2 separate regions of the Homo sapiens genome follow, and region 1 is linked to region 2. A link means that fine-mapping ties the variant in region 2 to the expression of a gene that starts in the linked region. Tissue or cell type: whole blood. Region 2 holds a variant in brackets; the other region holds the start of a gene. All regions are shown on one strand. Distances are between the middles of the regions.

The links. PIP is the estimated chance that this variant, and not a neighbour inherited with it, causes the effect.
Region 1: SESN2 starts here. The variant in region 2 is fine-mapped to the expression of SESN2 in whole blood (TOPMed, PIP 0.93).

Annotation. Positions count from the first base shown.
Region 1 is chr1:28,256,701-28,261,847 of GRCh38, reverse strand. SESN2 (sestrin 2) reads right to left here and starts at 2,330. Exons shown (of 10, transcript NM_031459.5): 1 at 1,911-2,330. The coding sequence starts at 2,000. RefSeq lists silencers at 1,420-1,479, 2,260-2,469 and enhancers at 1,739-2,587, 2,580-2,759.
Region 2 is chr1:28,304,055-28,309,201 of GRCh38, reverse strand. No RefSeq gene overlaps it. Among named protein-coding and RNA genes, the nearest start is that of MED18, 22 kb to the left of the region's middle. The variant C/T (reference allele first, on the strand shown) is at 2,535.

The DNA of each region.
Region 1 (5,147 bases), 47 kb after region 2:
GATCGTGCCACTGCACTCCAGCCTGGGCAACAGAGCAAGACTCCATCTCAAAAAAAAAAAAAAAAAAAGATAAGAAAAAGAAACCTCCCAGATAGCAGCAGTTTTCTCCACTGAGGAAACATGGCTTCTGTGTAAAGATCCCTCCCTCAAAGCCTTTTCTCCCTAGACCAGGCACTGACCCAGAGAGGGGTGTACAGTGTCTGATCTCAGGAACAGGCTCAGGCACCCCCTTGTGAGACACTCTGGAGAAAGCTGTGCGTGCCATGGCCACGTTCTGATAATAGCAAGCAAGTATCACGCAGTTACTATGTTCCAGTCACAGTGCTTCAGCTTTTGCTTGTATTCTGAGTTAATTCTCCCAACAATCCCTTAGAGATACTGTAAAATCCCCATGGGAAGAAACCACAGATCAGAGAAGTGATTACTGGCTAAGCCACACACTGCAAGTTAGCAGGAGGGCTGGGACATGAACCCAGCACTCTTGCTCTCTAGTGTTCAGGTGTTCTCAATAGTAACATTATTTCCATCTTTCCAAAGAAGTCACACAGCTGAGAAGCTGCAGGAGAAGAGCCATTCCTCCACATGGCGCTCCTAAATCACGGCAGAGAAGGGTAAGCAAGCTAACAAAAACCAGGGCACAAACTATACACCGACGGAGGTAGGATCCCCAGAAACCACGTTACTAAGAGAAAAGCAGGGATTTTCCTGGGGTCATAGCACTCCACCAAATCCCAGGTCCAGAATACAACTTCCACCACACTCTAGGCCTGTAAACTAAAGCAACTAGAAGCTCCTAGTGCCGTGCAATCTCCGAAATCATAAGGCCAAAGAACAAGATATTCAGTGGGGTTAATGAAGAAAGCCTCTTTCTGAGCCCATCGTGGGCCTCAATGTTCTTCCTGTAAAATGGGGCTATAGCGTAGCTTGTATTGCTGGTTTAGTCCTGAGGACTTAGGTTAAAGGCGAAAAAAACTCAGAGCCTGGTATCTAGTAGGTGCATAATAAATGATAAGATGTCCATTATCGCTGCTGCTGGTAGTGGTGGGGGAGTGCGAACTGTCAGTCTGGTTAGGTCCAGCCTAATTCCCGGTCTCCCTGCAAAGCCCCTGCGGGCTATGCCGGGATGCGAATGCGGGGGGGTGGAGGGGAGCGGCGCGAAGGGAGGGTGGGGGAGGAATTTCTGGAAAACAAACTTCTGGGCCTTCAGACCACTTACTTAGCAGGGCGCAGCCTAACCCGCGCTTGGCTTCGGAAGCCGCGACCAGGGTTGTCCCCTCTCCCCCCAGCTTTGGCTGCCGCCGCCGCGTACCGGGCGGCCCGCCAAGCCCCCAGAGCCCCTGCGCTCTCCCTCCAAAGCAGGAGTGCGGTGGACATAGGATGAGGTCGACTTTCACTGGCCAGTCCCAGGTGCCTACGCCCCGCGCTGGGGGACAGGAGCCGGGAGGCACCCCAGGAAGGGTCCTCTGCCCGCCGGCCCCCGCGAAGAGGAAGGGACTCCGCGGAAGGGGGCGGGGAGGAGGAGTGGTCTGGCCGCTCCGGCCGGGATTTGCCTGGACTTGAAGACGCTCAGGAGCCCAAAGCTCGGAGAGCCTCCAGAAGGCTTCTCCCTCATTGGCCAGGAGTCCGAGGGAGCCGAGGAAGGATCCGCGGCCCTGGGGTGGGGCGGTGAGGGAGAGGGGGAGAGGGAGGGAGGAGGGGGAGAGGGAGGGGGAGAAGGAGGGAGAGGGGAGACAGAGTGGGGGAGGGGTGCCGAGGGCCGCGGCTGCCAGTTGATGCAACCCGGGTCCCGGGTTACGCGCTCGGCTTTCCCTCCCCGAGCCCAGGACACACCGACTCAGCTCCGGACAGCCTGAGGCTCAGACGCGGTTCGGGGTTCCAGGGAAGAGGGGCGTCGCGCGGCCGCCGCTTACCTCTCCGGGGCCCGAGTCGCCGACGCCGCCCGGGGCGAACCGCAGGTAGTCCTTGAGCTCTGCGCGGCACTCGGAGTCCGCCACGATCATGGTGCGCGCCAGGACCCGGTCGCGGCTCGCCGACGACCCGTGCACCCGAGTGGGTTTCGGAGGGACGCCCGAATGAAGCCGGGACTGGGCGCCGCCGGGGAGCTTCTAGAACCCCGGGGCGTCTCTCGGGGCTCCAGAACGCTCCGGAATCCGAGAACGGCCGCTTTGGTGCTGGACTCTTCCCCCAGTCGGGCTTCGGGAACGGCGAACGGCCTCGGGGGCCTGGGAAGGGCCGCAGCGCAGGGGTTTTCACGGCCTCGGAAGTCCGCAGGGGCCAGGGCTGCTCCCGGACCCAGCGCTCCTCAGCATCCCCGCCGCGGAACTGCCAGCGCTCGCCGGGCTCTGACACCAGCAGTTCAGCCCGCTGCGGTCCCCGGGGGAGGGCGGGGACACAAAAGCCCGGCGGTCCAGCCAATCAGAGGTCTGTTTCCCCGGGGAGGCGGGGGAAACTCCGCCCCCTGGAGTCACGGGCTCCGCCAATCAGCACCGGGGAGCGCCCGGAATTCTGGGAGTTGTAGTCCGCCTCGGGTGAATGCTGCAAACTTTTGCAAGACGGTTTAGTCAGATCCCTGGCAACACCAGACGGCAGTGACAGCCCTAAGAGTCATTAGGGTTGCGTGATGAAAAGGGACTTCACTGGGCTAGGCCAAACAGCCGAGTGTGAAATCTCCTAAATGAATTCTTCATCTTTTCAGTTCCTGGAGGGACTGGCTAGGGTTAAGAGAGGTTTGGCTCGCGTCCTATCCGGTGCTGCTAATTATAGAACTGAACCCCAGATATTTAGAGGTCAGAGGGCACAACCCTGCTCCCCCTGGCCTCGGGGAAGCTCCAAAGATGCGAGACACAGGGAATTCACCTTATTTGTGGAGCCTCAGGAAAAGCCTTCATTCCTTGAAATGTCATTGGTAACTTCGTGTGGAACCTCAATCCCTATTGCTGGAAGTTTTCTTCCTTCTGCTACCCGTCCTGGCTTCCACCCCTCCCACCCTCCTCGAAACTTTGTAACAAGGTGTTCTGCTGGATCTTTGCTCACCTCTCCCTCTGGCCTTCTCTGACTCCTCTTTCACCACCCACTTCCTAAAACGTGGGTGCTTCCCCAGTTTGTTTTTGCCCCTCTTCCCTCCAGACACTCTCCCTGATCTCATTCACTTCCTGGCCTTCAACTCGCCTCTTGCCAGAAAGTTGCCTCTACCAACACCTCAGCACCTCCAAGCTAAATTCATTTTCTATTCATTTCAAACGGAGCCTCTTCCTTCACAGTTTTCCTTCAGAGCTCCTTTTTTTGTTTCCATTTTAAAGTTATTGTTTATTCTAGACAGGGAATCCTGCCAGGGGTGAGGGTGGATAAGACCCCCAAGTCCCCCTCTGAGACTTCTAAGTCTAAGCTTACAATTCCAAAGATGAAACCGACTTGGTTTCCTGCCTCCAGATTCTTGGGAAAAAGAGATTAATCTCACCCTCCCCTGAGCTCCCAAGGCACTTGAGCTGGATCTCTTTTCACATGTATCACATTCTACCTAGTTTTTTTTGTTTTTTGTTTTTTTGTTTTCTGTTTTTTTGTTTTTGTTTTTTGTTTTTTAGTAAATAGAGACAGGGTCTCAATATGTTGCCCAGGCTGGTCTCAAACTCCTGAGCTCAAGCGATTCTCTCACCTCAGCCTCCCAAAGTGCTAGGATTATAGGCATGAGCCACCATGTCCAGCCACATTCTGCCTTGTATTGTAATTTTCTATGTACATGTTTTATCTGACCCTTTTTTCTTTTTATTAGTATTGTTTTTTAGAGATGGGGTCTAGCTCTGTCACCCAGACTGGAGTACAGTGGCATGATCATAGCACGCTGCAGCTTCAAATTCCTGGGCTCAAGCGATATTCCCTCCTCAGCCCCCCAAATCAATCACTGGGGTTACAGGTGTGCACCACTGAGTCTGGCTTATCTGATCTTTTTAATTGTAAACTCCTTGAGGGCAGGGTCAACATCTTTTTTTTTTTTTTTTTTTTTTTTTTAAACAGAGTCGCACTCTGTCTCCCAGGCTGGAGTGCAGTGGCCCGATCTTGGCTCACTGCAACCTCTGCCTCCCAGGTTCAAGCAATTCTCCTGCCTCAGCCTCCTGAGTAGCTGGGATTACAGGCAAGTGCCACCACACCCGGCTAATTTTTGTATTTTTAGTGGAGACAGGGTTTCACCATGTTGATCAGGCTGGTCTCGAACTCCTGACCTTGTGCTCTGCCCGCCTCAGCCTCCCAAAGTGCTGGCATTATAGGCATGAGCCACCGCGCCTGGCTGGCAGGGTCTACATCTTGACATCCATCTCCTGCTCTATGTCACCTAGCAAAATGTCCTGACAATCATATGCCCTTGGTCACGGAATCTTCCTTTGCATCAACTTCCTCTCTAAACTACCCTGTGTCAGCTTCAGCTTTCATTTAAAAAATTTACTATGTGGCCAGGCGTGGTGGCTCACGCCTGTAATCCCAGCACTTTGGGAGGCCGAGGTGGGCGGATCACGAGGTCAGATCAAGACCATCCTGGCTAACATGGTGAAACCCCGTCTCTACTAAAAATACAAAAAATTAGCCAGGCGTGGTGGCGGGTGCCTGTAGTCCCAGCTACTTGGGAGGCTGAGGCAGGAGAATGGCGTGAACCCAGGAGGCAGAGCTTGCAGTGAGCCGAGATCGTGCCACTGCACTCTAGCCTGGGTGACAGAGTGAGATTCTGTCTCAAAAAAAAAAAAAAATTTACTATGTAATGTCAAAGTCCAGATCAAAAGGCTTCACTGGTATTTCATCAGCTACAGAATTAAGATCAAACTCCTTGGGTGGGCATGGTGGCTCACGCCTGTGATCCCAGCACTTTGGGAGGCAAAGGCAGGCAGATCACCTGAGGTCAGGAGTTCAAGATCATCCTGGCCAACATCGTGAAACCCCATCTCTACTAAATATACAAAAATTAGCCAAGCGTGGTGGTGCACGCCTGTAGTCCCAACTACTCGAAAAGCTGAGGCAGGAGAATCGCTTGAACCCGGGAGGCAGAGGTTGCAGTGAGCTGAGATCGTGCCACTGCACGATCTGGGTGTCAGAGCGAAACCCTGTCTCAAAAAAAAAAAAAAAAAAAATCAAACTCCTATCTTAACATTCAAGGTTTGCCA
Region 2 (5,147 bases):
CTCTGCCTCCTGGGTTCACGCCATTCTCTTGCCTCAGCCTCCCAAGTAGCTGGGACTACAGGCATGTGCCACCACACCCGGTTAATTTTTTGTATTTTTCAGTAGAGACAGGGTTTCACCATATTGGCCAGGCTGGTCTCGAACTCCTGACCTTGTGATCCACTGGCCTCAGCCTCCCAGAGTGCTGGGATCACAGGCGTGAGCCACCATGTTCAGCCACTGCATGGATTATTGATTATAAAAATTAATACTTGTGGTATATCCACATATGGAATATTATTCAACAATAAAAAGGAATGAGGCATATGAAATGTCCAGAATAGGCAGATCTATAGGAACAGAAAGTATATCAGTGGTTGCCTAGGGCTGGAGGGATGTAAGGGGTGGGGGAGTGATGGCTAAGTGGCACAGGGGTTATTTTGAGGGTAATCAAAATGTTCTAAAGTTGATTGTGGTGACAGTTGCACAACTCAACATTCTAAGAAGCAATGAAATGTGCATTTGTATAGTATATGAACTATATCTCAATAAAGCTGTTCAAAAATACTGAAAGCTAACATTTAGCTAATGTATACTGAACACTTGCCATTACTGTGCTGCAATTTATGTGCCTTCTCATTTAATCCTGGAATAATAATAATACTGTATACCTAGCATTAGCACTTGCTACATGACAGGAACTTTTTTTTTTTTTTAAGACGGAGTTTCACTCTTGTTGCCCAGGCTGGAGTGCAGTGGCACAATCTCGGCTTGCCACAACCTCCGCCTCCTGGGTTCAAGTGATTCTCCTGCCTCAGCCTCCAGAGTAGCTGGGATTACAGGCAGGCGCCACCACGCCGGGAAAATTTTCTATTTTTGTAGTAGAAACGGGGTTTCTTCATGTTGGTCAGGCTGGTCTTGAACTTCTGACCTCAGGTGATCCGCCGCCTGCCTTGGCTTCCCAAAGTGCTGGGATTAAAAGCTTGAGCCACTGCGCCCAGCCAGGAACTTGTTTTTTTGTTTTGTTTTTTTCGAGAAAGGGTCAGCCAGGCGCGGTGGCTCAAGCCTGTAATCCCAGCACTTTCGGAGGCTGAGGCGGGCGGATCACGAGGTCAGGAGATCCAGACCATTCTGGCTAACATGGTGAAACCCCGTCTCTACTAAAAAAATACAAAAGATTAGCCGGGCGTGGTGGCGGGCGCCTGTAATCCCAGCTACTCGGGAGGCTGAGGCAGGAGAATGCTGTGAACCCGGGAGGCGGAGCTTGCAGTGAGCCGAGATTGCGCCACTGCACACTCCAGCCTGGGCGACAGAGAGACTCCGTCTCAAAAAGAAAAAAAAAGAAAAAAAAAGAGAAATGGTCTTGCTCTGTCACCCAGGCTGGAATGCAGTGGCACAATCATAGCTCACTTCGTACTTGATCCTGGGCTCAAGGGATCCTCCTGCCTCAGCCTACCAAGTACCTGGAATTACAGGCATGAGCCACTCTGCCTATTTTTTTTTTTTTTTTTGAGATGGAGTCCACGCCCGGCTAATTTTTGTGTATTTTTTTTTAGTAGAGACGGGGGTTCACCGTGTTAGCCAGGATGGTCTCGATCTCCTGACCTTGTGATTCGCCCGCCTTGGCCTCCCAAAGTGCTGGGATTACAGGCGTGAGCCACTGCGCCCGGCCTTTTTTCTCTCTCTCTCTCTTTTTTTTTTTTTGGGACGTAGTTTCCCTCTTGTTGCCCAGGCTGGAGTACAATGGCGCGCGATCTTGGCTCACCGCCACCTCTGCCTCCTGGGTTGAAGCGATTCTCCTCTCTCGGCTTCCTGAGTAGCTTGGATTACAGGCATGCACCACCATGCCCAGCTAATTTTATATTTTTAGTAGAGACGGGGTTTCTCCATGTTGGTCAGGCTGGTCTCGAACTTCCGACCTCAGGTGATCCGCCCGCCTCGGCCTCCCAAAGTGCTGGGATTACAGGCATGAGCCACTGCGCCCGGCCTGCCTGACTCCTTTAAAGCATTTTTTATATGCATCAACTCATTAATCTCCATATGAACCTAATACTGTAGATGCAATTATTACCCCATTCTATTTTATTTTATTTATTTTATTTTATTTTATTTTAGACAGGGTCTTGCTCTGTCACCCTGGTGGGGCGCAGTGGTGCAATCATGGTTCACTGCAGCCTCAAGCTCCCTGGCTCAAGTGTTCCTCTCACCTCCGCCTCCCAAGTAGCTGGGACCATAGGTGGGTGCCACCATGCCTGGCTAAATTTTTTTTTTTTTTTAGAGAGACACAAAGTCTCACTATGTTGCCCAGGCTTATTACCCCATTTTAAGATAAGGAAACTGGGGTCTGAGAGGTTAAGTAACTTGCCTAGGGTCACATGGCTTGTAAGTGGTAGAACCAGGATTTCAACTCAAGTTGTTGGACTCCTGAGCCCAAGATCTTATTTTGTTTGCCTGCAACTACACTTGCACCATGGGACTGGCCCCCTGGGCTGGCTGATTGGATCTGCAGAACTCTCCATTTCCTAACTCCAGTCCTTTGCATGGGTCAGCTGCAC[C/T]TCCTGTACCTTCAGAAAGAGAGTTCCCTTTCTAGCTTAAAGCTGAGGAGGTTTCTGTTACTTACCTGATTCAAAAAGGATAATTTCTGCCTACAGGGTAGCACAGGGGCTTCCTAAGAGCTCAGTGAGCAGCGAACATGTGATCCTGGCATCTGAGGACCCACAGAGACCACATGCCAGAGAAAAGATGAAGTGCTTAAGCTTCCGGAAGGCCAACAGCTCAGCAGCCCTTGGCTGTATGTATTTCAATGTGTAAGTGTCCTGTGAAGAGTTTTTAAAATAAAAAATAACTTATATTGCTGTTTTTTTTTTTGTTTTGTTTTGTTTTGTTTTGTTTACTGTATGCTTACTAAAGTTCATCACAGCCATAACAGGAAGAAAATTTCTTTTTATTCTTTTAAAAATAAAAGATTTTATAGGTTAATTTATAAGCAGTAGAATAGTGTGATTAAAATCCTGGGCCCTGCACTCTGGAAAACTTTGTCAGTTTCTTTTTCTTTTTCTTTTTTAAGACAGAGTCTCGCTCTATCGCCCAGACTGGAGTGCAGTGGCGGAATCTTGGCTCACCGCAACCTGTGCTTCCCAGGTTCAAGTGATTCTCCTGCCTCAGCCTCCTGAGTAGCTGGGATTACAGGCGTTCACCACCATGCCCGGCTAACGTTTGTATTTTTAGTAGAGACGGGGTTTCACCATGTTGGCCAGGCTGGTCTTGAACTCCTGACCTCAGGTGATCCACCTGCCTCGGCCTCCCAAAGTGCTGGGATTACAGGCGTGAGCCACCGTGGCTAGCCTGTCAGTTTCTTAAAAAATGAACCGCATAGGCGGGTACAGTGGCTTGTGCCTGTAATCCCAGCACTTTGGGAGGCTGAGGGAGGTGGATCACCTGAGGTCAGGAGTTTGAGACCAGCCTGGCCAACATGGTGAAACCCCATCTCTAGTAAAAATACAAAAATTAGCTGGGAGTGGTGGTGGGAGCCTGTAATCCCAGCTACTCAGGAGGCTGAGGCAGAAGAATCGCTTGAACCCAGGAGAAGGAGGTTGCAGTGACCCAAGATCCTGCCATTGCACTCCAGCCTGGGCGACAAAAGTAAAACTCCATCTCAAAAAAAAAAAAAAAAAAAAAAAAAAGAATCACACAGCTACCATACAACCTGGCAATTGCAATCCTGAGCATTTATCCCAGAGAAATGAAGACTTACATTAAGACAAAAACCTGTAGTTGAATGTTTAAAGCAGTTTTATTGGTAGTATCCCCAAACTGGAAACAATCCAGATGTTCTTCAATAGGTGGATGGTTAAACAAACCATGGTACATCCACAGAATACCACTCAGCATGGAGTATTACCCAGAAATAAAAAGAAACGAGGCCGGGCATTGTGGCTCATGCCTGTAATCTCAACACTTTGGGAGGCTGAGGTGGGAGGATCACTTGAGCCCAGGAGCTCAAGGCCAGCCTGAGCAACACAGGGAGACTCCACTTGTACAAAAAATTACAAAAATTAGCTGGGCATGGTGGCACACACCTGTAGTCCCAGCTACTCGGGAGGCTGAAGTGGCAGGATCACTTGAGGCAGAGAGGTCGGTGATGCCAGTGAGCTCTGATTGCGCTACTGCACTCCAGCCTGGGTGACAAAGCCAGACCCTGTCTCAAAAAAAAAAAAAAAAAAAAGAGAGAGAACAAATATGAATACTTGGAACAATCTGGATGAATTTCCAGAGAATCATGATGAGTGAAAAAAAGCCAGTCTCAAAAGATTAAACACTGTATGATTTATTTATATAAAATTCTTGAAATGACAAAATTATAAAAATGGAGACAGAATTACCAGTGTAAAGGAGGAGGTAGAGGCAGGAGGAAGTGGGGTTGGCTATTGAAAGGTCAATATGAGGAATCCTGGTAGTGTTGGAAATACTCTGTGTCTTGACTGTATCAATGTGAATATCTTGGTTGTGATACTGTGTTGTATTTTTTCAAGAAGTTACCATCGGGGGAAACTAGGTAAAGAGTACACAGGATCTCTTTGTTCCCTCCCTCCCTCCCTCCCTCCCTTCCTTCCTTCCTTCCTTTTTTGAAACAGGGTCTTATTCTGTCACCGAAGCTGGAGTGCAGTGGCACAATCATGGCTCACTGCAGCCCCGGCCTCCTGGGCTCAAGCTATCCTCCCACCTCACCCTCCCAAGTAGCTAAGAACACAGGCGCGTGCCACCACTCCTGGCTCATTTTAAAACATTTTTTGTAGAGATGGAGTCTCCCTATGCTGCCCAGGCTGGTCTATGACTCCTGGGCTCAAATGAGCCCACCTCAGCCTCCCAAAGTGCTGGGATTACAGGCGTGAGCCACCTTGCCTGGCCTATATTATTTCTTATAGCTGCATGTGAAGCTATAATTATCTCAAAATTAAAAGTTTAATTAGGAAAAAATCCTAGACCCTATGCTTAAAACATGCTGTGTGTCCTGGAGTAAGTTGCTTTTCCTCCCTGTCCCTTAGTTTTTACTTGTCTTATAGATTTGTTGTGAGAAATAAGAAATAAGTGATATTATGTATATAAAATGCTTAGTACATTGTATATTAGCGTTAGTACTGATACACTGTAAGAACCTAATAAATATT